Homo sapiens: one gene and its partners. The protein of the gene in region 1 purifies or fractionates together with the protein of each later gene. This does not show direct contact. Each region holds a gene or a part of one and is shown in the gene's direction. Other genes may lie near its edges.

What was found.
Region 2: the proteins of HPN (region 1) and GALNT7 purify together in Homo sapiens (co-immunoprecipitation; 2 studies listed by BioGRID and IntAct, with this or other methods). This does not show direct contact.
Region 3: the proteins of HPN (region 1) and LSR purify together in Homo sapiens (co-immunoprecipitation; 2 studies listed by BioGRID and IntAct, with this or other methods). This does not show direct contact.

Annotation. Positions count from the first base shown.
Region 1 is NC_000019.10:35,044,705-35,051,736, forward strand, and holds part of HPN (serine protease hepsin precursor), read left to right. Parts: intron 1-4,558; exon of another isoform or gene 4,559-4,585; coding exon 4,586-4,687; intron 4,688-4,770; coding exon 4,771-4,812; intron 4,813-5,741; coding exon of another isoform or gene 5,742-5,817; intron 5,818-7,032. UniProt on the Homo sapiens protein: Serine protease that cleaves extracellular substrates, and contributes to the proteolytic processing of growth factors, such as HGF and MST1/HGFL. Plays a role in cell growth and maintenance of cell morphology.
Region 2 is NC_000004.12:173,171,811-173,178,842, forward strand, and holds part of GALNT7 (N-acetylgalactosaminyltransferase 7), read left to right. Parts: intron 1-7,032. UniProt on the Homo sapiens protein: Glycopeptide transferase involved in O-linked oligosaccharide biosynthesis, which catalyzes the transfer of an N-acetyl-D-galactosamine residue to an already glycosylated peptide.
Region 3 is NC_000019.10:35,252,002-35,259,033, forward strand, and holds part of LSR (lipolysis-stimulated lipoprotein receptor isoform 2 precursor), read left to right. Parts: intron 1-6,943; coding exon 6,944-7,032. UniProt on the Homo sapiens protein: Probable role in the clearance of triglyceride-rich lipoprotein from blood. Binds chylomicrons, LDL and VLDL in presence of free fatty acids and allows their subsequent uptake in the cells.

The DNA of each region.
Region 1 (7,032 bases):
CCCTAGTGGGGCTGGAAATGCCAGGCTGAGGGACTTAAGCTGTCTGGGGGGTACTAGGGAGTCACAGAGGGTTCTATAGGTAAAGAGGGGACAGGTTGGATTTGGTGTCTCAGTAGGTTCCCCAAGCCTCCGTGTGGAGGGTGCGCTAGAAGGGAGACTGAGCCCAGCGGTTGGATGGGGCCGGAGCAAGGTGCAGATGGAGAGAAAGAAGGAAACGGGGGAAGGAGAGTCACTCAGGAGGATTGGCAGGCTGTCGGGGGAGGGGAATGTTATGCAGATGGGGATGGTCCTAGGAGTGAGGGCCTCTGAGACAGGACCGGGAGGAAGAATATACTTGGGGAGACATTGGGGAGACATTCTGGGACCTGGTAGGGGCAAAGGGACTAGGAGGTCCCAGGGAAAGGTATTTAAAAGGTATTTAAAGGACTGCAGGAGCCCTGACCTGGGACCTGGAAGAGGGTCTAGGGCTGGGGACAGAGGGGAAACTGAGTCCACAGAGGTGGGTGAGACAGACTTAGGGGCAAGGAGGAGCAGGGGGAGGCTGCGGCCAGCCCTACAAACTCTGGATTTTACGGAGTAGGTAGAGGGTGGGTGAAGACAGCAGCCTCAGAGGCGGGAAGGAAAATCAGGTGCGCCTGGTGTCCCAGAAGTCCAAAGAGGAGAGCATTTATACAGGAAGCTGCAGTCATGTAAGATGAGGCCCGAGACACGGAGCCACCAGTTGAGTGGATTTTCAGAGCCAGAGAGCCAAAGGTGTTACGCGTGGGGGTCTTTGCAGCCAAATGGTGGAGGCGGAAGAACTGACCTATGAGAAGACCCAAGGCATCCAGAGGGGCCTGGAGAAGCAGGGGCAGAGAGTCTCAGGGAGATGTAGGGGTGGGGGAGGTCTGGCTTACCAAGGGAAATAGCCCTGCTGCTGGGATCAAAGAATTGATGTTGACGTGCCGCCTGTCCCAGTAGAGACACGCAGGGAGGATGAGGATGCGTCCCACACCCTGGGCCAGATGAGGATGCTGCCTGTCCCAGTAGAGACACGCAGGGAGGATGAGGATGCGTCCCACACCGTGGGCCAGATGAGGATGCTGCCTGTCCCAGTAGAGACATGCAGGGAGGATGCCTCTCATACTGGGGGAACCCCAGGATGCAGATGCTTCCTGTCCCACTGGAGGCGCTGAAGTCCTCTGAACCACACAGCATGGAAGGAGGTTCTTCCTCTCACCCTAGGAGACACATACATAGTGGCATTGCTTCCTGTCCCACCAGATGTGCCAAGGCCTCTAGGCTGCATTCTGCATGGCCTAGAGCCCTGGCAGGCACAGCTGAAAACAAAGCAAGCAAGACCAGCCCAGTGGCTGTCGGGAGCCAAGACCTCCTGCTGGAACCTGGAGAGTGGTCCTGGGCAGAGTTGGGGGGCAGGCCTGAGAACCCCTCGCAGGACAGGCAGGGGTCAGCCGGCAGTAGTTGGGCTGGTCTGGCCCACTGGGGCCTCTTTTGGGGAAGAGAGTGTTTCCTCATGCCTTGATGGGAGCCACTGAGCTTTCAATTTTTTTTTTTTTTTAATACAGAGTCTCGCTCTGTTGCCCAGGCTAGAGTACAGTGGCGCAATCTTGATTCACTGCAACCTCCACCTCCCGGGTTCAAGCGATTCTCCTGCCTCAGCTTCCCGAGTAGCTGGGACTATAGGCGCCCGCCACCACACCCAGCTAATTTTTGTATTTTTAGTAGAGGCGGGGTTTCACCATGTTGGCCAGGCTGGTCTTGAGCTCCTGACCTCAAGTGATCCACCTGCCTCAGCCTCCCAAAGGACCGGGATTACAGGCATGAGCCACCATGCCCAGCCTGAGCTCTCAAATTCTTAAGACACCCAGATAATGGCCACACCAGGAAGGTCCTAGACCACTCCCTGCTCTGTTCCAGGTGCTGGCCTGGTGCCGGGTTCACCAGCCACATCACCATGGGTGCAGATGGGCGAGCTGGGAGCTCCTGCCACCTTGGGGTGCTTTGCGGCTGCCAAGGGCAGTTGAACCCAAGCCAGGCCCAGCTGAAGGCTTTCAGCAGCCTTTACTCTTTGGCCTTCTTATAATCCCTAGTGAAGGGGTTGGCTTTTATTTATTTATGTATTTATTTATTTATTTATTTTTTGAGACAGAGTCTCGCTCTGTCGCCCAAGCTGAAGTGCAGTGGCGCGATCTCGGCTCACTGCAAGCTCTGCCTCCCGGGTTCAAGCCATTCTCCTGCCTCAGCCTCCCGAGTAGCTGGGATTACAGGTGCCTGCCACTGCGCCCGGCTAATTTTTTGTATTCTTAGTAGAGACGGGGTTTCACCGTGTTAGCCAGGATGGTCTCGATCTCCTGACCTCGTGATCTGCCCACCTCGGCCTCCCAAAGTGCTGGGATTACAGGCGTGAGCCACCGAGCCCGGCTAGGAGTTGGCTTTTAATCTCCAGGACCTCTTTGCCCTGGGAATAAAATCCCTTTTCCTGTGCCACCAGGCCTCCCCAGCTGGCCCCAGCCTTGGTTCCCACTACCTTCCCCAAGCTCTGGCCATCTGGCCATCTCGATGGCCTCTCCAGCCTCTGACATAAGAGAGCCTGCTTATTCTTGCCTCAAGGCCTTTGCCTGTGCTGTTCCCTCTGCCCACAGTGCCCTTCCTTGTGGTCTGTGTGTGGCTGGCACCTCACCTTTCAGAGCTTAGCTCAGAAGTCTCCTCTAGGGGAGGCCCTGTGATCCCTGATCCCCTGCAGAAGCCCACCTGCTGCCCCAGCCTGCACGGTTTTCTTCACAGCCTCTGCCACAATCTGGAAATTATTGGGTTCATTTACTTGTTTCCTTGTTAATGTCTCCCACTCCCCACCTACACGCATGAGAACGTGAACCCCTGAGAGTCGTAACCTTATCTGTCTTCTTTGGGTTATGTTCCCGGAACCTAGAAAGGTGCCAGGCACACAGCGGATGTTCAGTAGGATGGTAAACAAATAAAGCTTCTTTAGGCTGATGAAAAAACTGAGGGTCAGGCGCGGTGGCTCACGCCTGCAATTCCAACACTTTGTTTGGGAGGCTGAGACAAGCAGATAACTTGAGTCTGGGAGTTCACGACCAGCCTGGTCAACATGGCAAACCCCGTCAATACAAAAAATACAAAAATTAGCCATGTGTGGTGGTGTGCGCCTATAATCCCAGCTACTCGGGAGGCTCAGAATTACCTGAGCCTGAGCGCTTGAGACTGCAGTGTGCCATGATCGCGCCGCTGCACTCCAGCCTGGGCAGCACAGTGAAACCCTGTCTCAAAAAAAAAAAAAAGAAAAAGAAAGAGAGAGAGAGAGAAAAAGAAAGAAAGAAAGAAAGAAAGAAAGAAAGAAAGAAAGAAAGAAAGAAAGAAAAGGAAGGAAGGAAGGAAAAGAAAAAAACTGAGGCTGAGGCTCAGAGAGGGGAGGGGAGTTGCTCAGGCCCACACATCTCTGATGATTTATAAAGCATTTATAGAGAACTTGCTATGTGCCAGGCACTTCCGCACAGTGAGAGCCAGGATGGCTTCGTGGCTGTACACAGGGGACCTGGCATCAAACCTGCCCAGGGTTCTGGACGCTGCTCTGCCTCTTCCAGGCTGTCACTGTGGGCACGTGACCCCACTTCTCTGAGCTATCTCAAAAACAGGAATCATAGTTGTGGGATTGAAATAAGGACTAAATGAGCTGATGTATTTAGAACGGTGCTTAGCACCTGGAGGCATCAATACAATTTGAGCTATTCTTCTTCTTCTTGAAAATAACTTTAAATTATTATTTTTAGAAGTAGGTGCTCAGTGGATGCCCATTTAATAGATAAGAAAGTTGAGGCTCAAAGATATGATGGCACCTGCCTTAGGTTCCAGCTAGGAAGGGGTAGGGTCAATATTTTTAAATGAGGCTGGCCAGACGCAGTGGCTCACTCCTGTAATCTCAGCATTTTGGGAGGCTGAGGAAGGAAGATCGCTTCAGCCCAGGAGTTTGAGACCAGCCTGGGCAACATAGCAAGACCACGTCGCTAAAAAAATTAATACATAAAATAAAATGAGGCTGGCAGATTTTCAAGTGGAGGGGCAAATTTGATCTTGCAACTGGGTACCATGAGAGAGGTCTGATTTAGGGGGTATCTAGGGGCAAAGCATCTAGAACAGCAGAAACGACTGAGGCAGCGAGGAAATGCCAGCGGCAGGGAAGAGAGCTACCAAGAGGGCAAAGGTTGGGGGTCACAGTCCCAAGAAGAGATGGCCCAAAGCAAAGACAGAAATACAAAAGCACAGTGTCACTGGGGAGGAGACATTCCCTAAGTGCCAGGAAAGTGCAGGGCGGAGGTGGAGACCGTGGCAGGTGGCCCGGCCATGCCCCCCTCCCAGCTGGAACCCTGGGGGAGCTGGGCACCTGGTTGTTCACACGGCAGGGGAGGAACAGCCCTGTCAACTGCTGGCCCCGGGAAACTGGGCCTGGGGAGGACATGCTTGGGCATAATAAGTTAGCCCTGGGGGCAGGGCAGAGCTGGCCTCGGGCCCAGACCCTGCCGCAATGAGGACAGGCCTGGCTGTGGCCCCAGCATGGTGTCTGTTGCAGGTGGCCGGACTGTGCCATGCTGCTCCAGACCCAAGGTGGCAGCTCTCACTGCGGGGACCCTGCTACTTCTGACAGCCATCGGGGCGGCATCCTGGGCCATTGGTGAGAGCGGTTCCTGTGCCTCTGACCTCCCCTGGCCCCTGCAGCCTCCAGCCTGCCTGCCCTCACCCCTCCCTTCTCTGCAGTGGCTGTTCTCCTCAGGAGTGACCAGGAGCCGCTGTACCCAGGTGAGTGGAGCAGGCTGGGACCCTCTGGGGGAGCCCTGGAGGACACGTGTATCTGGCGGGAGCTCAACAAGCGTATTTGTTGAATAAATGCACAAATGCATGCAGAAATGCTAATCATAATAGTGCATTTGTATTGAGTGCCTGCTATGTACCAGGCACTATTCTAAGCACCCCACATGTCTAACCCAGACTTTTTCAGACACCAGTGTATTACTCATGAGTGCCTCATAAAATTAAATTAGTGAGTTGGAAAACCATGTTTTTTTTTTAAGTATGAAATAGATTCGATTACAGACTATCACAGTACATCTCTCAGTAAGTAAAGGTTATGCTAATTTTTGTTTGTTTTTTTTTTTTTTTGCATCCATATACATGTAATCCCACTGCATCCCCACACTCTGAGGGTGGGACTGTTATTCTCCCTGTTTTACAGATGGGGAAACTGAGGCTTTGAGCAATGCAGCAGTTTGCCCCAGACTACAGAGCTATGGGCTACATCAGGATGTAAAAATGTGTTTCTTACTGCGTGGCATGGTGAAAACATGTTGGGGAGGCATGATATAAATTCAGTGGACCCTTCTAACTCTCCTAGGAGGTAGTTTTTTTGTTTGTTTGTTTTAAAAAAGAAAAAAGTCTTGCTCTGTCACCCAGGCTAGAGTGCAATGGTGCAGTCTCAGCTCACCGCAACCTCTGCCTCCCAGGTTCAAGCGATTCTCCTGCTTCAGCCTCCCAAGTACCTGGGAATACAGGCGTGTGCCACCATGCCCAGTTAATTTTTTGTATTTTTAGTAGAGATGAGATTTCACCATGTTGGCCAGGACGGTCTCTATCTCCTGACCTTGTGATCCACCCGCCTCGGCCTCCCAAAGTGCTGGGATTACAGGCATGAGCCACTGCGCCTGTCCCTGGTAATTAGCTCCATTTTACAGATGTGCAAAATGAGGACCAGAGAGGACATGCAGCTGGGGAACGAGGGGCCAGGAACAGCTCTTAGACTTATCCACTGTAAGTGTGTCTGCAGGCATGTGGAATGAATGGCCACACAAATAAATAGATAAAGAAACTAACTGTGGGATGAATGAATGAATCTTCCCAAATGCCAACTTCAAGCTGCCATTCCCTGATGCAGGACAGCAGGAAAAAAGGGGAAGTTGGGTGGTGGGATGTATTTTTCATGTCTGTGAGCCTCATCTAATTCCATAAAGGATTCAGTTCACACTAAAATCAGAAATGAAAATCCAGACAAGAAAAGCCAACATCAACATTAATCATCATTACCAGCACTTAGCATTTGTATGCACCAGCCAAGGCCTTGGGACCTTATGATATCAACTCATTAAGTCTTCCCAACAACCTGTTGTTTTTCTTTTCTTTTTTTTTTCTTTCTTTCTTTCTTTCTTTTTTTTTTTTTTTTTTTTGAGATGGGGTCTTGCTCTGTCGCCCAGGCTGGAGTGCAGTGACACGATCTTAGCTCATTGTAACCTACATCTCCTGGGCTCAAGCAATCCTCCCATCTCAGCCTTCTGAGTAGCTGGGACTATAGGCTAATGCCACCATGCCTACACAAAATTATTTTGTCAATAACAAATTATTGTTATTTTTATCTTTTTGAGCCAGAGTCTCGCTGTGTCGCCCAGGCAGGAGTGCTGTGGCGCGATCTTGGCTCACTGCAATCTCCATCTCCCAGGTTCAAGTGATTCTCCTGCCTCAGCCTCCTGAGTAGCTAGGACTACAGGCACGTGCCACCACACCCAGCTAATTTTTGTATTTTTAGTAGAGGCGGGGTTTCACCATGTTGGCCAGGATGGTCTCAAACTCCTGACCTCAGGTGATCCACCCGTCTCGGCCTCCCAAAGTGCTGGGACTACAGGCATGAGCCACCACACCCAACCTCATTTTTTAAATTTTTAGTAGAGATGGGATCTTGCTACATTGCCCAGTCTGATCTTGAACTCCTGAGCTCAAAGCAGTCCTCTCAGATCAGCCTCCCAAAGTGCAGGGATTACAGGTGTGCACCACCACAACCCATTTTCCTATGGGGATGCTGAGGCACAGAAAGGCTGAGTGACTTGCCCCAGGTCATGGAGCTAGTCAGTGTCAGGGCTGGGATTTGAACCCAGGCAGCCTGCGTAGTAACTGTATATAGTGTCTACACTTGATTGCTTGTTAAAAAAAAAAAAAAAGAACAGCTGAATTCATTGCCATAGTAAAGACTGACAT
Region 2 (7,032 bases), on another chromosome or scaffold:
TCTCATGGATCTTGTAAAAACCACACAGCAATCAAACCTCGATAAATATATAAATAAAAATTGTGCTACTGCTTTCATAGTGAAAACCATAGGGGGCAAGAAAATGGAGGAATTTGGTCATAAAAGCCTTACTTGAAGAAATGACTATTAGCAGTAGCAAATCCACACAGGTCTGAAGCAACTCGATTCTTACCTCCTGTGGGAAAGAATTTATTGGAGGGGCATAAGGCAGAGTGAGAGACCGAGGCAAATTTTTGAGCAGGAGTGAGAGTATTAAAAAGCTTTAGAGCAGGAACGGAAGGAAGTACACTTTGAAGAAGGCCATGTGGGCTACTTGAGAAATCCAAGTACCTCGTCTGACCCTGGACTTGGGGTTTTATACATTGGCATGATTCCAGGGTTTGCGTTTCTTCTCCCGTGATTCTTCCCTTGGGGTGGGCTGTCTGCATGCGCAGTGGCCTGCCAGCAGCGGGGAGGGGCTGCCTGCAGTGTGTTTACTGAAGTTTTACTCATGCTCACTTGAGGCATTTTTCCCTTACAATTTGAGCCTTCCTAGAGGAAGGGCATATACTAGTTAAAAGCTGCCATTTTGCCTATTAGTGCACATGCTGGAGCCCACTTGCCCAACTCCTGAGATCTTAGTGGGAACCTGCTGATAACCAGCTTTAGGTGTTTTCTATCTAATGGGAGACTGCCTTTCCATGGTGTTGGCGCGACCAATTATTATTTCAGAGAGACAGTTTAACAACGGCCTGACCATCACCTGATGGCCGCCTGACATTCCTGGTGGTGGGGGGCCTTTCCTGCCCTGCTCATGTCTGCCTAGCTGCCTACTCTGACTTTTGAGGCGAAATCTGAACATTTCAAGAAAAGTAGTTAATCTGGAAGTGGGTGGCAGCATTCTTGAGAAGGAGCATTTGGGCAAAGGTCCTGAGGCAGGAGGTAGCATGAGTGAAATAGTGAGAAACTAGGAGATAAATATTGTTGGAACGTGGAGAATGACAAGTAGAATGATGCCACACAGGAAAGCATGGGTCTCGTAGTCCATGCTAAGGAGGAGATCTTAAGTGCGGTGAGAAGCCGTTGAAAGATTTTAAGTAGGGAAGAGTGGATTTGTGTTTTGAAAAGATCACTCTGGCTGCCTACAGAAAGTATGTATTTGTCTATAGAACAGGTAGCAGGAGTCCTGGTGGGGGTCATCATTATTCAGGTGGGACATAATCCTTGCTTAGATTGGCAGGGCGGTGGTAGAGATAGAAAAAAATAAATTGATTCAAGAGCTCCTAAAGATGCAAAGGCATCAGGATTTGGCTATTGGATATGGTAGTGAAGGTGTCAGGAGGCCTAGGATGATAGATTATTTGTTTCATTATGGAAAGTTCTCAAAGCAAAATGTATACCTTCTTGTATTGTATTTTATGATTATGGGAAGCTTTTTTTTTTTTAGTCTTTGCCCTCTGGATATTTTAAGGTCAGCATTTATTAAGATTATCTGCTTGGACTTGCAAAGCACAGAAAGTTCCTTTAATTAAATAAATTATGTCCCAGACTAACACCATTTATCCCAGGTTTTAGCCCTGAGTGACTGTCTACAGTTGACCCATAAGCCTCTGAAAATAAAGGTTTTTAAAGGAAATGTTGACAGATCCATTAAAACAGCAGTCCCCCACCTTTTTAGCACCAGGGACTGGTTTTGTCAAAGACAATTATTCCACAGACTGGGGGAGTTGGGTTGGGTGGGGGATGGTTTGGGGATGAAACTGTTCCGCCTCAGATCATTAGGTATTAGATTCTCATAAGGAGTGTGCAACCCGGATCCCTTGCATGCAGTTCACAATAGGGTTTATGCTCCATGACCCAGGGTTGGGGACCCCTGCATTAAAACATTCAGTACTGGTGAGAAGCTGTGTGTAAACTAATGACTCTCTGGATATGCAAATGCAACTTTAGTCAAGTCATTAATGCCACTTAGGTTCAGGGTGTATATAATAGGACTAATTCAGGAACTAGTAGGCCAAGAGGTTTTATGTGATAGGCAAGCTAACAGGTTTGAAAGGAATATAGCTTAAATGAGGATTAGTGGCTGAACTGATTACCCTGGCAGTCAAGTTCCACCTTACCAAAGCCATTTTATCTCAGTGATGATCAGTTGTAACCTGAAAAATTCTGCCCTTGAACATGAGATTGTACTTCAAATGGAAGCTCTGTTTATACTATTAGGGATGGAGCTATCACTTAGTGAAAGTGTAGTGTCTTAAGTGGTCACTGTTCTCTCAGTTTCCCAGGCTATACACCTTAGGATTGGTTTTTGTTTCCTTTGCTGTTTTCAGTGTCCCATCCCCCTTCTCCCCCCACACATAATAATGATTAAAAATATCACATCACCAAGTCTGAGAAGTCTGGGGTTTATAGACTTCCTGAAATTAATGCAGAACTTTTGCATACATCTACATTTTTTTCTAGGTTGATAATCAGAAGCTTTCATGTTTCCTAAAGTGTCCTCTAAACCAAACAAGGCTTCCAGCCACTGACCATGTGCCCTTTGAAGGCAGGGTTCATGTTTCCTGTTTGTTGAGTATTTCCTCCATCTTTCCTGGTGCTAATTTTATGGAAGGCACATATTAAATATTTTTCAAAGAAACTAAGGTACATCCATTTATGTCTCCCACATAGGTCTGAACATTTCGGAAATGTTTGGCGAATTCCTAAGAATTGTTGTATTTATCACTTCTGTGGAAAAGTTTTCCATCCAGTGGTCTATGTGAGGTCAGGCATCAGCCCTGTTACCACCTGCTTGCCCCTCCCCCATCCCCATCCTCCCCTCCCTAAGACCTCATGAAGAATACTGATAACACCTGAAGTGGGAGTTCCTGCTCTCACAATCTAGTTGGGGGTGGGGAGAGCTATTGCTTAATCCAGTAGCAATGTAAAGAAATAATACAAGAACTGTCACAAGGATATGTTTCATCAGTAGTCAAACCAGTAGGTGGAGAAGGCTTAAAATGGCCTTTGGGGAATGCACAGTTACTAGTAAAGAGAGAATGAAAACTTTTGAACAGCAGTCTATTTTGTGACTTAGGCTGGTTGCATGGGATGGGAGATAACGTGTGAGATACGATTTGGGTTCCTGTATAAACTGTTAGACAATAGTAAATTGGAGAAAGAGGAAGAGAGAAAATAATTCACGAATGAAAAGCAAAATTCTGAGCTTGAGCCATCTGTAAACAGAATATGTGGAAATTCTAACTTGAGTTATTAAAAAAGTTGGTCAGCAAGATTTGAGTAGCTATTGAATGAAGGAAAATGACTGTGATTATTCAGCTCCTAACTAGATAATTGTCTTTGTTCATATTTTGAATTTCGATTCTCATTCCTGAAGAATGAATGTACAATCTGAAAAGTAACTAAATTAAAGATTTCAGTAATAACAGCAACAATAATAGTTTACATATATTGAATCCTTACTTTGGGCCTAATACATATTCTACATGTATTTGGTTGTTTATTTGTAACAACCACCCTCTATTGCAAGTCCGATGGAATCCCAACTTTATAGATGAGACTGTTGTGGTATAGAGAGGTGAACTCTTTGTCCAAGTTTATTCACTTAATTAATTGTAGAGCCAGGATTCAATCTCAGGTGTTCTAACTTCAGAGCTGTGCTCTCTGATCTTGCACTACAGTTTTTAACAACACAGACAAGTACACATGGGCTACATTAAAAGGTGGATATGTAGACGCTAGCTGGGTAATTTCAGATAAACACTGAAGACAATATAGATGGTCCCTGACTTACCATGATTCAGCTTACGATTTTTGACTTTTCAATGGGTTTATCGGTGTGTAACCCTGTCATAAGTCTGAGCACATCTGGACTTAAGATGTCTTATGATTCTTCAAGTTTACAGTGGGTTTGTTGCAGGGTGTAACCCCTTGTAAGTCGAGGAACATCTGTACATGGTAATATGAAAGAGAATGGGAGGCTGGTGCGGTGGTTCATGCTTGTAATCCCAGCGCTTTGGGAGGCCTAGGCAGGCGAATCACTTGAGGTCCGGAGTTTGAGACCAGCCTGGCCAACATGGTGAAACCCTGTCTCTACTAAAAATACAAAAATTAGCCAGGCATGGTAGCACACCCCTGTAATCCCAGCTACTCAGGAGGCTGAGGCAGGATAATTGCTTGAAGCCAGGAGGCGGAGGTTGCAGTAAGTGGAGCTCGCGCCACTACACTCAAGCCTGGGCAACAAAACGAGACTCCATCTCAAAAAAAAAAAATTAAAAACAAAAAGAAAGAGAATGGGTTGGAAGGGACCACTCAGGGAATGTCAGGGAAGGTGATGGCCAGAGCAGAGTCTTCAGGAGTAAGTGTAAGACTATCATGCAAATCTGGCGGAAAAGCATTCCAGGCAGAGGGAACAGAAGTGCAAAATTCCTGAGGTTGGAATGAGGCTGGAGTATTTGAAGCCAGTATGGCCGGAGTTTGTTGAGTTTGGAGGTAGTACAGTACGGGATGAGCTTGAAGATGTAGTCAGGACTCAGATGATGGGGGTGTGTGGCTCTTGTGGTCTGTTATTAGGGTGATTATTTGTTTTAGTTTACATTTGCTGCCCATTAGCCATTATTATCCTTTCACTCTCAGAAGTGTCCTGGGTTGGATGGTAAATTATATGGATGTCTTGCTTAAAGTGTATTTTCCTAGATAAATAAAATGAGTAATAACCCTTTTTGGCCACAGTTTGTGGGCCAGATGCACAAGTAAACAATTGTGCTGGGTAAGACAAAAACTGTATTAGTTAAGTCCACTGAGTCCTGTGGGAGCACAGAGAAAGGAGCATCTAGTGTATGGGACTGGATGCTGTCAGAGAGCTTGTCTTATAAAAAGAGATGCTGGAGAGATGAGGACAGAGGAGACTGTGCAACAGCATAAATAACTGTGACCAATCCTGGGGACTACATGGCTGAAAATTGGGTTGGAGAGGGGTGGAATGGAAGAGAGGACTCTAGAAAGATAAATAGAATCTGAGCCATGAAAGACTTTGAATGGTCAGAGCTGGGCTATAAGGAATAATCTGGAAACAGTGCAAGCTAGATTTTAGTGAGGAGAGAATTATGTCCGAAGGATATAATGAAGCTTAAACTAAGGAGAAGGACCTAGAAACTGAATACAGAGGAAGAGATTATGGAAGTATAATAGAATTGCCCAGTGGGAGGAGGAATCATTCTTGATGGTAAAGGAAAGGATGTTGATGCCTTTAGAAGGAATACAGCTGTCCAAAGCACTGGCTCTCAAACTTCTTTAGGCTTCGGAGTCACCTAGAGGGTGTGAGAAAACGGATTACTTGGCCCCATCCCCCGAATTTCTGATTGAGTAGATTTAGGGTAGAGCAGATAATTTGCATTTCTAACTAGTTCCCCGGGGATGCTGATGCTGCTGGTCCAGGGATCATGCTTTGAGGAGTGCCAGTCTAGAGGTTATATAGATTTGGGGGCTGCAAAATGAAAATGAAAAATTTGGTTTGGTTTGGCATATAGTATTTTATAGAACACAGGTCAGTCAAGTGAAGGTGTCTTAACCAGGTCGATGGAGCTCAGAATGGAATCAGAAGTGGATGCATTTCATTGGCCAGAGGGTGGTGTCTGAAGCACAGGGAGTGGGTTGGTAAGTTAAAGGAGCCTGTGTGGATGGAGGAGAAAAATGTGTGTATTAAGAAGAAACATGGAAAATGCCTTCTTTTAGGCTCTAGGAGGTTGGTGGGGAGAGATGAAAGAAGGCATAGACAGAAGTAAAATGACTTAGACGATATTGCCTAACCGTGAGCAAAAATAATTTCTTTAAGGACAGGGCCATCAACAAATTCAGATGTTAAAATGTTTGAGAACTGATTAGAATGAAAGCTGAAACGAGTGGCTGTGGAAGCATTACCTGCCTGCTAACCTAACCAGTAGTACTTTGGTCTAGAGAGGGACTACAGCAGCATCATCATTAGCATCTCAGTAAATATTGTGGCCCAGAAAAACTGGTTCAGATGATAAAGAAGTTCAGGTCGTGAAGAGTCATCTTCACTATGGGAAAAATACAAATAGAGAAAAAGTTTTATTAGAGAACTGTAACTATCAAAGAGGAACTTAACCCATTTTTGGTTATATCTGGGCTACCATAACTTTATGTGCCTTTCCACCTCTCCCTATCCGCAAGTCTGTGTGTGTGTGTGTGTGTGTGTGTGTGTGTGTGTGTGTGTGTGTGCGCGCACGCGCGTGCGCACAGACACCTATGTATATATATTTTAGTTGTGATCATATATAATACTATATAAGATAGATATTGCAACACATATTAGTCTTTTTTTACTCATGTCTGAAATCTGGTGATTTGAAAAGCTGTGACTAGAAAACCAATTTAATATTTAAAGTTGGAAAATAAATTTTATTCTGAGAACATGAGGCAATTTTTAGTTTTTAGTACATTAATTTGACTGAAGGATATTAAAAAAACAATAGCAAAACTATGCTATTCTCAGCGTAGAGAAAATGTATGCTCAGCATTTCAATACTCTTAGTTTTTAAAAATGAGGTTTATCATTAAATTATAGTTCAGCCCTGTGATCCTGAAAGCAACACTGAGACAACATGAACTGCAGTCACCTAGGGCCTATGTCTTTTTGGAAAGGGAAGAGCTAACTTTCAGTTGCTTAATTTGCTAAGAATCCTGAATATTTCCAAATGAGAAATGTTCTCATTTCTGCACCATTATAAATTCCCTTCTGGGCTTCCCAGCCTTGGAAGCATTTTCAGGCATCACTCCCAAGAAGCATTTAAACATGCCGACAGGGAGACCTGATTCACTTCACTGAATACAAGAACTGGTACACTGAAACTTGAGGAAAAATTTAACTTTACATTATCTAATTAGGTTTATAGAATTGGTGCAGAGCAGCCTGGTTTCCCAAATCTAGAAGGTACGATTAACTATAGTATTATATCAATACCAACTAGTCTGCGAATAGGCTTCTAAGCAATAGGAATCTGTTATTAC
Region 3 (7,032 bases), 210 kb from region 1:
TTTTTTGTATTTTTAGTAGAGACGGGGTTTCACCGTTTTAGCCGGGATGGTCTCGATCTCCTGACCTCGTGATCCGCCCGCCTCGGCCTCCCAAAGTGCTGGGATTACAGGCGTGAGCCACCGCGCCCGGCCCCTTGTTCTTAACTGTAATGCTGCCTCCTGATAGGATGTGCCTGTTGGGACTAAGTAAGGGGCAGTCATTCATTCATTCATTTGGTATTTATCAAGCATCGACTATGTGTCGTTGGTGCTGGGGATAGAGGTGATTGGGATGGCTGAAGTTTCTGTCGTCAAGGAGATGACATTCTGGTGGAGTGAGACTGGCAGTAAATAAGCAGATAAAGAAAGAGTATGAGAATTTCAAAGTCTGGGCACGGTGGCTCACGTCTGTAATCTCAGCACTTTGGGAGGCCAAGGTGGGTGGATCACCTGAGGTCAGGAGTTCCAGACCAGCCTGGCCAACATGGTGAAACCCCGTCTCTACTAAAAATACAAAGATTAGCCAGGCATGGTGGCACATGCCTGTAATCCCAGCTACTCAGGAGGCTGAGGCATGAGAATCGCTTGAACCCAGGAGGCAGAGGTTGCAGTGAGCTGAGATCGCACCACTGTACTGCAGTCTGGGCGACAGAGTGAGACTCTGTCTCAAAAAAAAAAAAAAAAAAAAAGACTCCGTCAAGGTATAAGAATGTCAGAGAGTACTAAGTGTTGCAAAGAAAATAACACCAGGCTGGGTGCATTGGCTCATGCCTGTAAATTTCAGCACTTTGGGAGGCCAAGGCAGGAGGATCACTTGAGCCTAGGAGTTTGAGACCAGCCTGGACAACAAAATGAGACCCCATGTCTACAAAAATTTTAAAAATTTAAAAATTAGCTGGGCATGGTGGCATGTGCCTGTGGTCCCGGCTGCTCAGGAGGCTGAGGTGGGAGGATTGCTTGGGCTTGAGAGGTCAAGGCTTCAGTGAGTCATGATCGTGCCACTGCATTCCAGCCTGGGTGACAGAGTGAGACCCTGTCTTGAAATGAAAAGAAAATAGGCTGGGCGCAGTGGCTCACACCTGTAATCCCAGCACTTTGGGAGGCCGAGGTGGGTGGATCACCTGAGGTCAGGAGATCGAGACCAGCCTGGCCAACATGGTGAAATCCCATCTCTACTAAAAATACAAAATTTAGCCGGGCGTGGTGGTGGGCGCCTGTAATCCCAGCTACTCGGGAGGCTGAGGCAGGAGAATCGCTTGAACCTGGGAGGCGAAGGTTGCGGTGCGCCAAGATTGCGCCACTGCACTCTAGCCTGGGAAACAGTGAGACTCCGTCTTAAAAAAAAAAGAAAAAAGAAAATAGCACTGGGTGATGTGCTACATGGAATGACTTGGGCTGTGAATATGATTTGAGGAGGGCCTGGGCCTGGGCCTTACAGAACCTAGAAGGCAGAGAGGAAGGGGAGGGGCAGGGTGCCAGGGATGAAGGCTCACGTACCTCATGTCTTAGTGTGTGTTCACTGTCTTAAACAAGAATTTAAAGTTGGGCATGGGGCAGAGCGGGGAAGGGAGCATCCCTTTGCAGACCCCAAGAAGCCAGGAACTGGAGCACATTCTGCTAGAGGATCGATGGGAAGCAGGGTTCCAGGGGCTGAGCCTATGTCAGTCCTGTTTCAGAGGAGGCACCAGGCTTGCTTGCCCTGAATTTCTGTGGGCAGCTCAGCCATGAGCATCCTACTGTTATTGAGGTCACAGGGCTGCTTAGGCCCCCTCCTCTCTAACCCAGGGATTGTGCCTGCCTGGACCAGGCGTGACTGCTAAGCTTCTGCCAGGACAAGCCAAATACTGAGGGTGCTTCCTCTGCTGGACGCAAAAGTCCAGGATGACCCCCCAGGCTCTGTCTCGGGGAAGGGGCCCTGCATGCTCCAGGGGCCTCACAGGCCTGGGTCTTTCAAACCACCCCCACCTGGGCCTGTGTTTGATCAAGGCCCTGAGTGTAAACATCCATTGTGTGTGTCCTTTCAGGAAATCCCATAGCCATAGGAGCTTCCTCTGTTTCAGCTTTGAGGATGGGGAAAAGTGGACTCCCCGTGGTGTTCCTAGGGTCACCCACTGTGCTGGGGTTTTTCTGTTGTTGTTGTTTTTTTTCTGTTGCCCAGGCTGGAGTGCAGTGGTGCAATCTCAGCTCACTGCAACCTCTGCCTCGCAAGTTCAAGTGATTCTCCCGCCTCAGCCTCCTGAGTAGCTGGGATTACAGGTGCACACCACCACACCTGGCTAATTTTTGTATCTTTTTGGTAGAGATGGGATTTCGCCATGTTGGCCAGGCTGGTCTCAAACTCCTGACCTCAGGTGATCTGCCTGCCTTGGCCTCCCAAAGTTCTGGGATTACAGATGTGAGCCACCATGCCCGGCCTATCCTGGTTTCAAAAGTGAAAATAGTCCTGGATAAGGTAGAAGGCTGTCCACTCCAGGCATCCCTCCGGTCCGGTGGCTCATTCCCTGCTTTGTCCTTCCATGCTTTGGGTGATGGACCAGCACCTGGACAGGAGGCCCTGTTCCACCTCCTCGGGCTCCTTGGGGTCCAAGTGCCCCCACCTCCAGCTGCACTGCAGCAGAGAGCCCATGGGACCTCTGAAATCATGAAGGTCACCTTTGCGGTGTATAAAGAAGGAACCAGAGGTTGGAGATGTGGAGGAGGCCTGGCTGCTGTTCCCACTGGAGACCTGGCATCTTCTCCCCGACCTAAAACAATGAAAGCAGTGCTCAGCCCGGATGAGATCACGGCCAGCCCAAGACCAGGAACAGGGTACGCCCTGCAGGAAGAAGGTGTGCCCAGACCTTAGGATGGATCAAAAGAAGCCGGAAAACTATATTTTTTGTGAGTTTTGAAAATGTCAGACAGGTCAAACAAAACACAGTGAGGTCCAGCCTCGGCCTACAAGATGCCAGATTTCAACCCCTGGCCTATATGATCTGTTTGCCATGGCAGGCGGTTCCTGTCCACCTCTTTTGTTTATAGCAGGGACCAGCTCTTGAGCTCCAGTGTTGAAGAGGCACGGTCAGGGTCTGATCTGAAGACACTGGTGGCTCATGCCTGTAATCCCAGCACTTCAGGAGGCCGAGGCAGGAGGATTGCTTGAGGACAGGAGCTGGGAGACCAGCCTGGGCAACACAGTGAGACCCAGAGACTACAAAAAAATAAATTTAGCGGGGCATGATGGCACACCCTGCTACTCTGGAGATGGGAAGATTGCTTGAGCCTAGGAGTTCGAAGCTGCAGTGACCCATGATCGCACCACTGCACTCCAGCCTGGGCGACCAAGCTAGGCCCTCTCAAAAAAGATACAGGTGGAAAAATGATGGACGAAGAGGGCATTGTGGCAAACCTGGGGATTTAGGAGAACCTAGTTTGGAATTCTATGAGGATTCAATGAAAGAATGTGTGTAGAGGGGCCCAGCACATAGTAAGAGCTCAATAAACGGTGGGGGCTAGGGGCGGTGGCTCATGCCTGTAATCCCAGCACTTTGGGAGGCTGAGGCAGGTGGATCACTTGAGCCCTGGAGTTCAAGATCAACCTGGACAACAAAGCAAGATCCCATCTCAAAATTAAAAAACAACACCAACAACAAAAAAACAGTGGCTTAGATGCCTGATCATTAGGGTAAGTCGTGTCCTCAACCCCTTCACATCTGCTCTGAAGGTCACCATATCCGGAAGCCTTCCCTGGCCTCCTTGTTTAAAATGGCACAGCCCCCACTCCACGCCTGGCACTCTCTGCTGTCCCTGATTCGTTTTCTCCATACAGCTTATCTTTGTCTGATATGTGACATAGTTAACATTTTATATTTGTCTTTCTTTCCTAGTTAGAATCTGAACTCTAGAAGGGCAAGGGCAAGGATTTATAACTCAAAGGTTCCGGGCTTAGGCCTCTTTTATATTCTTGATTTTGAGGTTAATTAAGAGCTCAGGCCTAGCGAGGTGGCTCATGCCTGGAATCCCAGCACTTTGGGAGGCCCAGGCGGGCAGATCACTTGAGGTCAGGAGTTCCAGACCTGCCTGGCCAACACAGTGAAAAACCTGTCTCTACTAAAAATACAAAAATTAGCCAGTTATGTTGGCAGGCGCCTATAATCCCAGCTACTCAAGAGGCTGAGGCAGGAGAATCGCTTGAACCCAGGAGGCAGAGGCTGCAGTGAGCCAAGATCGTGCCACTGCACTCCAGCCTGGGCAACAGAGCGAGACTCCATCTCAAAAAAAAAAAAAAAATTAAGAGCTCAAAGAGTTTGTTTTCATAGGCAGCAGAATGAGAAAAGTTTACAAAATAGTTTAAATGACAATAAAGTCATTATAGATTAACATAAATAAAATACCTTTTATGAAAAAAATAATCATTTTCTGAAATCAGACAAAACATTGTGAATGAGAAGGTGGCATGGTTTTATTTTTTTGCAAGTCTCCGAAGCCTGGCTGGATAGAAGAGCCTGGCTTCTCAGAGCTGCTTCAGTCTGTTGTGATATCTATTGTATGTCACGTAGCCTCTGGAAAACTCCACAGTTAGTATTGTTGGGAAAATAACTTTGACCTCAGGATCTCCTGAAAACGTCTTGGGGAACCCCAGGGTCTAGAGGCTGCAGTTTGAGAACTGTTGCTGTGGTATCCCAGGTGTCTCAAATACTGCCTAGAACATAGGTGGTACTCAGTAATTATTGTTGAAGGATGAATGAATGAATGAATGAATGAATGAATGAAAGAAAGAAAGAAATGTGTCTTTGAATCCAGCCATGTGCCCAGAATGATGAGACAGATGACAAAAGCTAAGGGACTTTAGCATGAGGAGAGGGGGTTCGTTTCCTTTTTTTTCTTTTTTTTTTGAGATGGAGTCTCACTCTACTGCCCAGGCTAGAGTGCAGTGGTGCAATCTCAGCTCACTGCAATCTCTGCCTCCTGAGTTCAAGCAATTCTCCTGCCTCAGCCTCCAGGGTAGCTGGGACTACAGGTGCGTGCCACCATGCCTAGCTAATTTTTTACATTTTTGGTAGAGATGGGGTTTTACCATGTTGGCCGGGCTGGTCTGGAACTCCTGACCTCAAGTGATCCACCTGCCTCAGCCTCCCAAAGTGTTAGGATTACAGGTGTGAGCCACCATGTCCGGCCAAGAGGGTGTTCATTTCTGCTCCTTGCCAGGTATTGTGTCAGGCACTGGGGACCCAGCAGTGGCTGAGACAGACAGGGCTCTGCCTCACGGAGCCCACATTTTCACCAGGCAAAGGATGGTCGGCCCCTAAGCTGGGAGATAAGACTTCAGCAGTTGGGTGGGGGAGCCGTGGGAGAAGCCCAGCCCACAGGGGGACAGTGCAAATCTAGAACCAAGGCGATGGCAGGGGTGAGGCTGGCACGGTAGCTAGAGACCACGTCGTGCCAAGGGCCTTGGGGACCATGGGACTATGGGACCTTAGGGAAGGCGTCTGGAATGCTGTAGCCAGACACTGTTGCAAGGAGGATTTTTCTGTAGACATGAGGCCTTCCTTATGAAGAAAGCAAGGGTTCTTTCATTCCTGGGGGTGCCAGGTGCTGTGGACTGCAGCACGCGTGGTTGCTGCCGTCACAGAGCTGTCATGCAGGAGGGCAGCGCGTCCTTGGGAAGGTGGCAGGCAGGTCAGGCTAGGAGGAAAGAGGCCGGGAAGCTGAGGGCATTTCCTGCCCGAGATGCCCAATGTAGCCTACTTCTGTCCCCAGTGGCTTAAGGCAGAGTTGCCTGGTAGGTGCCCTGGTCCCACCCTGGTGAAAGGCTGAAGGTATTTAATTAGTGCCTGAGAAGCAGAGAGGAAACAGGATGTGCCAAAACACTTTGATGGATGGTAGAGTTAACAGGCTCCTTGCCTGCAGCTGCTTCAGACAAGAGCGTCCCCAAGCCCTGGGCCTGACCTGGAATGTGGGGATGGAAGGGGAGGGGGAGGAACCAAGGCACTGGGAGGGTAAGTCTCTCTCTCCCACATAGACACACCCACTCCTTATGGGTGCCTGGGCATCTCCTGGTACCTAGAATCTGGCCTGTTTATCTCCACACCCATCCCTGGGGTCTACACTAGGCCCTGTGGGTGGCAGTTCACATCAGGGGAGTTCTGACTTTGGCTCTGAGAGGTGGTTCAGAGATGGCTGTAAGTTGAGAAGCACAGACTGCTGGGTGTGGTGGTTCACGCCTGTAATCCCAGCACTTTGGGAGGCTGAGGTGGGGGTGGATCACCTGAGGTCTGGAGTTCAAAACCAACTTGGTCAACATGGCGAAACTCCATCTCTACTAAAAATGCAAAAATTAGCCAGGTGTGGTGGCAGGTGCCTATAATCCCAGCTACATGGGAGGCTGAGGCAGGAGAATTGCTTGAATCTGGGAGGCGAAGATTGTAGTGAGCCGAGATTAGTTCGCACCATTGCATGCCAGCCTGGGCAACAAGAGTGAAACTCCGATTCAAACAAAAAAAAAAAAAAGCTGGGCATGGTGGAGTGCCTGTAGTCCTAACTACTCAGGTGGGAGGATTGCTTGAGTCCAGGAGGTTGAAGTTGCAGTGGGCTATAATTACACCACTGCACTCCAGCCAGGGCCACAGAGTGAGACCCTGTCTCTAAAGAAAGAAAAAAAAAAACAACCTCAGGCTCCGAGGGCACCATTACTGCTCTATACTGAAGAGCTGTGCAGCTTTTCCAGACCCGAAATGTCATCCACAAAACAGAAGTGATAATGGTCCTGCCTCACAGACTTCTTGCAGTAGTCCAGGTGTTTAGAACGGGGTGTAAAAGGCCGTGTGCCCTTGGTAGGAATCTTTGCATATGCATTTGATCATCTGCAGCCTGCCCAGCCCACTGCTTGCCCCCTCCTGGGTGTGCTGGGAAGGGGTCTTTGGCCCTCCAGGGGTTAGGTGCCCCAGCCTCCAAGGTGCCCTCACGCCTTTTCATCCCGACTCAGATGCTGACCTGACCTTTGACCAGACGGCGTGGGGGGACAGTGGTGTGTATTACTGCTCCGTGGTCTCAGCCCAGGACCTCCAGGGGAAC